Homo sapiens: one gene and its partner. The protein of the gene in region 1 interacts with the protein of each later gene in a pairwise test. Each region holds a gene or a part of one and is shown in the gene's direction. Other genes may lie near its edges.

Region 1 (3,500 bases):
TTTGCATTTTGAACTCCTTCTATGCAGGTGTCAGCATTTGCAGGTATACAGGAACAGTCCTAGTGATGCACTATTTAATCAAAAGACGGATGGATCTTTTGTTCTTGCAGCTGGTTTTCCAAGAATTGATATAAAGCGGGAAGAACAGAAAACAGCAGTCATAAGTATGCTACTCAAAATATTCTTCTTTTTATGTGCCAAATCCTCACATTGGAAGCTGTCCCGAGCAAGACAGGTAGTTGGTGATTATGGCCAGAATTTATTCTGTGCTTTGACTAAAGGCTTGCTGATCAATATATGGTTAATGTTGAAATTGGGGTGCTTTTAGGACTCTTCAGTGGTAGAGCTGTCTGGTTAGAAATTAATCTTTAAGTTGGGATGCCGAGGTGGGAGGATCAGGTGAGGCCAGGAGTTTGAGACCCGGTCTCTACAAAAAATACAAAAAATTATCTGGGTTTGGTGGTGCACACCTTTAGTGCCAGCTACTCGGAAGGCCAAGGCAGGAGGATCACTTAAGTCCAGGAGTTCGAGGCTGCAGTGAACTGTGATTGCACCACTGCACTCAAGCCAGGGTGACAGAGCGAGACTTGGTCTCAAAAGTATATATAAAATGAAATACATTATCTGTAACATTTAAATAAAGGTCTGATCATTGCAGAAGTTGGCCTTACATTTCCCATTTACTGTATGTGCTGGGAGATTGGATCTTACCAAAGGAATTCTTAATGGAATTAATTATTAGGTGTTTGTTTTACGCATGGCTTTATGTTGCATGGGGCATGAAAGCCAGTGCCCATCCTGGCATTATAAGAGCAGGAGACCTGGCATTTTAAGTGGCCCGCAGTGAATGAGCTGGACTAGGACAGGGAGCTGTGGGAATGAGACTCACTCCTCTTGGCTTTTGCTGACTTATATTCTAAAAGACTTCGATGGCCTGAAAGTTGGCAATCAGGTTTTCCAAGATGAACCTGCTTTTTATGCAGTGATTTTTTTTTTTTTTTTAAACAGTGCAGAGTTCAAATAGCTCAACAGTATTAGCAGTGAATATCCTTCCTTCCGGGTAGTTGTCTCTGGCTTTGTCCTGGAATGGCCATACACTATTCTAGAATAGTAGGTGGCATGGTCAACAACAAAGTGTTCTGTTTTTTGTGCAAAACCATTGTTGCTTTCGTTCTGCTGTTCTGAACATCAGGAGCATCATTTTCAATTTATTATTATTATTATTTTTAGGAGTGGAAACAAAATGTCAGTCAGTGTGCATGAGAACCGCAAGTCCAGGGCCAGCAGCGGCTCCATTAACATCTATCTGTTTCACAAGTCCTCCTACGCTGACAGCGTCCTCACTCACCTGAATCTTTTACGCCAGCAGCGTCTCTTCACTGACGTCCTTCTCCATGCCGGAAATAGGACCTTCCCTTGCCACCGGGCAGTGCTGGCTGCATGCAGTCGCTACTTTGAGGCCATGTTCAGTGGTGGCCTGAAAGAGAGCCAGGACAGTGAGGTCAACTTTGACAATTCCATCCACCCAGAAGTCTTGGAGCTGCTGCTTGACTATGCGTACTCCTCCCGGGTCATCATCAATGAAGAAAATGCAGAATCGCTCCTGGAAGCTGGTGACATGCTGGAGTTTCAAGACATCCGGGATGCATGTGCAGAGTTCCTGGAAAAGAACCTGCATCCCACCAACTGCCTGGGCATGCTGCTGCTGTCTGATGCACACCAGTGCACCAAGCTGTACGAACTATCTTGGAGAATGTGTCTCAGCAACTTCCAAACCATCAGGAAGAATGAAGATTTCCTCCAGCTGCCCCAGGACATGGTAGTGCAACTCTTGTCCAGTGAAGAGCTGGAGACAGAGGATGAAAGGCTTGTGTACGAGTCTGCAATTAACTGGATCAGCTATGACCTGAAGAAGCGCTATTGCTACCTCCCAGAACTGTTGCAGACAGTAAGGCTGGCACTTCTGCCAGCCATCTATCTCATGGAGAATGTGGCCATGGAGGAACTCATCACCAAGCAGAGAAAGAGTAAGGAAATTGTGGAAGAGGCCATCAGGTGCAAACTGAAAATCCTGCAGAATGACGGTGTGGTAACCAGCCTCTGTGCCCGACCTCGGAAAACTGGCCATGCCCTCTTCCTTCTGGGAGGACAGACTTTCATGTGTGACAAGTTGTATCTGGTAGACCAGAAGGCCAAAGAAATCATTCCCAAGGCTGACATTCCCAGCCCAAGAAAAGAGTTTAGTGCATGTGCGATTGGCTGCAAAGTGTACATTACTGGGGGGCGGGGGTCTGAAAATGGGGTCTCAAAAGATGTCTGGGTTTATGATACCCTGCACGAGGAGTGGTCCAAGGCTGCCCCCATGCTGGTGGCCAGGTTTGGCCATGGCTCTGCTGAACTGAAGCACTGCCTGTATGTGGTTGGGGGGCACACGGCCGCAACTGGCTGCCTCCCGGCCTCCCCCTCAGTCTCTCTAAAGCAGGTAGAACATTATGACCCCACAATCAACAAATGGACCATGGTGGCCCCACTCCGAGAAGGCGTTAGCAACGCCGCAGTAGTGAGTGCCAAACTTAAGTTATTTGCTTTCGGAGGTACCAGTGTCAGTCATGACAAGCTCCCCAAAGTTCAGTGTTACGATCAGTGTGAAAACAGGTGGACTGTACCGGCCACCTGTCCCCAGCCCTGGCGTTACACAGCAGCAGCTGTGCTGGGGAACCAGATTTTTATTATGGGGGGTGATACAGAATTCTCTGCCTGCTCTGCTTATAAATTCAACAGTGAGACTTACCAGTGGACCAAGGTGGGAGATGTGACAGCAAAGCGCATGAGCTGCCATGCTGTGGCCTCTGGAAACAAACTCTACGTGGTTGGAGGATACTTTGGCATTCAGCGATGCAAGACTTTGGACTGCTACGATCCAACATTAGACGTGTGGAACAGCATCACCACTGTCCCGTACTCGCTGATTCCTACTGCATTTGTCAGCACCTGGAAACATCTGCCTTCTTAAATGCAGTACATTCTAAAGAGAGTGAGCATGAGGTAAGAAGTTTAGCTATAGATGTAAGTATGCATATAATTAGGCTATTGTGTAAGTTCAGTACATGGGGTGAGATCTGATCCACAGAGACTGTACTGCAGAAGTACTACCAAAGCTGTAAAAATAAGAGAGCTGGTGCCCCTAGAACTTATCCACTTGTGTTGACCACAGCCTCAGCCCCCACCATGGCATTAGCCAGTGGTTCTCAGCTTTTACTGAGCCTCAGAATCTCCTGAAGAGCTTTTTATTTATTTTATTATTATTATTATTATTTGAGACAGAGTCTCGCTCTGTCACCCAGGCTAGAGTGCAGTGGCATGATCTTGGCTCACTGCAAGCTCCGCCTCCTGGGTTCACACCATTCTCCTGCCTCAGCCTCCCGAATAGCTGGGATACAGGCGCCCACCACCAGGCCTAGCTAATTTTTTGTATTTTTAGTAGAGACGGGGTTTCACCA
Region 2 (3,500 bases), on another chromosome or scaffold:
CACAACAAAATATCACAGACTGGGTGGCTTAAACAACAGACATTTATATTTCAGAGTGCTGGGGGCTGGCAGTCTAGATGAGAGTGCCAGCGTGGTCAGGTTCTGGTGAGGGCTCTCTTCATGGCTTGCAGACAGCTGCCTTCTTAATACCACCGTTATGACCTCAATTAACCTTAATTAGCTCCCAAAGGTTTTATCTCCAGATACAGGCACATTGGGGCTCAGAGTTTCAATCTGTGAATTTGGAGGGACATACTTTGTCCATAGCAGAGCCCTGAGACTGAGCCCAGTCCCCTGGAGGTGAAAACCCTTTCTGGAAGGGCCACACTCCCCATCCACTACTGCCCTTCCTAGATCTCAGCTCCAGTGTCACCCCTTCTGGGCAAGGTCAGGCACCCCAGTGTGTAGCACATTGATCTGTGTGACCAAGGATGAATGGCCCTGTCTCCTGCTGGACTGTGAGCTCCAGAGGCAGGGCTACTTTGTCACCATTGTGGCCTGCCCAGGCAGGGACCTGGCAAATATTTATTGAGTAGTTGTTGGGAAGTCATGGAAACCGTGTGCTGTGCCCTTGGGTCTCACCAGAAGATCTGCTCAGGCCCAGGGCCAGGACTAGGCACTGTCCTGGCCAGGAAGGTCCCAGCTGCCCTGTGGCCTCCTGCCCTTGTCCCCCACACCCTCAGGGGTGCTGATATGCTGAATTTTAAGGAGAGATGATTCTCATATGGTTTTCTGCCCTTGGGGAGTTTATAGTCAAGTGGGACTTAGTTTCCTCAGAGGTAAGCTTAAGGGCACTGTGGCCGGGGTGGGGCAGGAGAGGGACATCTTCTCTAGCCTGGAGAAGTGAGTAGCTGAGGGTGGAGGAAGAGGGTATTCCAGGCAGGGTGCACAGCTTGGGCAAAGGCCTCGCTGCAGTAGAGGAGGACCAGGCAGTGTGTTTGAGCCTGACTTAGGTGGGGATTTGGTGGGGACTAGAACCATTAGGTGGTTTAGAGACCTCAATCCTCGACTCCATCCCACCCCTGCTTCAGCCAGCAGGTGACCCTGCTAGGGACCTGCCAGCGAGAGACCCGTTTCCTCTGAGTCCAGTCATGCTAGCTCCCTTCCTGGGGCTAGCGTGGGTGAGGGCTTCTTGCAGGGGCCCACATAGTTTTTCTCCTGAGTCCATTGGGCAGGATTGGGCCGGATTGGGCCAATCACAGAGGGATGGAGGGGTTCCCAGAGATGGGTCTGCTCTGGCCCACACTGCAGCTCACCCCTGTCCACTCTGTGCGGGGGCCACTGGGGAACTAGACGAACAGCATTCAGGTCACTGTGGCTCACAGACCCGTCGCCCCACTCCGCTCGTCCCCAGCAGCATGGAGGGAGGGAGAGCTCCCGTGCGCTAATTGGCTGAGCTATTTGGACCAATTGCTAATCAAAGGCTCCAAAGCCCTGGGTGCTGTGGTGCTGGGCTCTGAAGCTGAGGTTCACAAGGTATGGGGGACCTCAGTCTGAGCATCAGGTTGGCTCTCATTCTCAGGAGGGGACCTGGGCCACCTTCCCAACCCCCACATCTCTGTTGCCTCCTATTATCCCCGTAACCTTTCAGTCTCCATTGCCAAATGGGGGGGTTCAAGACCAGCCTGGACAACATAGTGAGACCCTGTCTTTAAAAAAAAAAAAATTACCTGTGGCCGGTGCTGGGTGCTTGGTAAGGTCACCTTGAAGCAGTCCTGTGCCCGTTCTGCACTGTTTTGTTTGTTTGTTTGGTTGGCTGGTTGGTTGGTTGGTTTTGGTGGGGTAGTGGGGTCGGGGGATGTGGTTTTTTGTTTTTGCTTTTTTTGTTTTAGAGACAGGGTCTCGCTCTATGACCCAGGCTGAAATATAGTGGCACAATCATCACTCACTGCAGCCTCTAACTTTTTGGCTCAAGTGATCCTCCCACCTGAGCCTCCCAAGTAGCTGGGACTACAGGTGCAAGCCACCAAGCCCCACTAATTTTAAAATTTTTTGTAGAGATAGGGGTCTCACTATGTTGCCCAGACTGGTCTTGAACCCCTGGCTTCAGGGGCTCCTCCTGCTTCTGCCTCTCAGAGTGCTGTGATTACAGGCGTGAGCCACCGTGCCCAGCCTCTCTGCACTGTTCTTTAACACATTTACAAATATTTACTGAGCATCTATTTCATTCTAAAGAACTAATCTTGAATAAAACCAGCCAGAATGTTTGCCTTCATTGAGCTGACAGTGCCCTTGGAGGGGTTAACTGTACATACACCTCTTTTTTCTTTTCTTTTTTTTTTTTTTTTTTGAGATGGAGTATCACTCTGTTGCCCAGGCTGGAGTGTAGTGACTCGATCTCAGCTCACTGCAACCTCCACCTCCCAAGTTCAAGTGATTCTCGTGCCTCAGCCTCCTGAGTAGCTGGAACTACAGATGTGCACCACCACACCCGGCTAATTTTTGTATTTTTAGTAGAGACGGGGTTTCACCATGTTGGCCAAGCTGGTCTTGACCTCCTGACCTCAGGTGATCTGCCCGCCTCAGCCTCCCAATGTGCTGGGATTACAGGCGTGAGCCACCGCGCCTGGCCTGTACATATAACTCTTAAAATGCTGCCCTGACCCTGGGGCTCACTTTCAAAGATGTCCACACTCTGTAGGCCAGGACCCCACCTGTCCCATACCCTTCCTGGCAGCCCTGTCCCTGCTACATCGCCCTTCAGCTACACCAGCTTTCTTTGGGTCCCTGGACCACACCTGATACCTTCCCGCCCAGAAGTGTTATCTCTGTCCTGGCAGTTGCTCAACCTTTTATGGTCCCTACCACCAAGGCCATCTGCTTGGTTGACATACCCACCCCAACTGTAATTAAATCATCCCCGGTGTCTCCTCACTAGACAGCTCCACATAAGCACAGCTGGTCCTTTTAGGGCTGTGTCCCCAGCACCTCCCACAAAGGAGGATGCAGTTCATCAGGATGGGTTGGATGAACAGCCCATTTTACAGATGAATAAACTGAGGCACAGGCAGGTGCAGGATTTTGGCAGCACTGCACACCTGTCCTGGCTTTGTCCTCCTCCCTGGGGAATGAGCTTGGAGCACCCCTCTAGGAACTGGGATGCCAGCCTCTTCCCTTGACCATCTTGGTCCTTGTCATGTGGGCCCCAGTACCAGGGGTGGCTTTAATTTGGCTGCCCAGGGAGGTGGTTCAGGGCTGCCAGGACCCCTGAAGTAGGCTCTCTGGGCTCTGTCCTTTGCCCCCCAACATGGTGCCTGTTTCTCCTGCCTCTTCATGCAGAGTGGCCAGCTCCTGGCCCATTCAGCTCTGAGTTTGAGCTCCTGGGCGGAGATTTTTGTTGCCTTGTAACTGGGATTCCTAGATCCAGCCTCCACCCTCTGATTGCCCTAAGGAGGTTTTGGGGTTTTGTTTTGTTTTGTTTGTGTTTTCGTAGGATGGTGGCAGTGATTTTGAGGAGGGGAAGAGGAAGGAAGATACAAGCAAGGGAAGTCACAGGCTGT

Evidence for each region. The genes of interacting proteins can lie anywhere in the genome.
Region 2: the proteins of ENC1 (region 1) and NACC1 interact in a two-hybrid assay, tested with the Homo sapiens proteins (one study listed by BioGRID).

Annotation. Positions count from the first base shown.
Region 1 is NC_000005.10:74,634,229-74,637,728, reverse strand, and holds part of ENC1 (ectoderm-neural cortex protein 1), read left to right. Parts: intron 1-27; exon of another isoform or gene 28-235; intron 236-1,230; 5' UTR 1,231-1,243; coding exon 1,244-3,013; 3' UTR 3,014-3,045; intron 3,046-3,500. UniProt on the Homo sapiens protein: Actin-binding protein involved in the regulation of neuronal process formation and in differentiation of neural crest cells.
Region 2 is NC_000019.10:13,128,264-13,131,763, forward strand, and holds part of NACC1 (nucleus accumbens-associated protein 1), read left to right. Parts: intron 1-3,500. UniProt on the Homo sapiens protein: Functions as a transcriptional repressor. Seems to function as a transcriptional corepressor in neuronal cells through recruitment of HDAC3 and HDAC4. Contributes to tumor progression, and tumor cell proliferation and survival.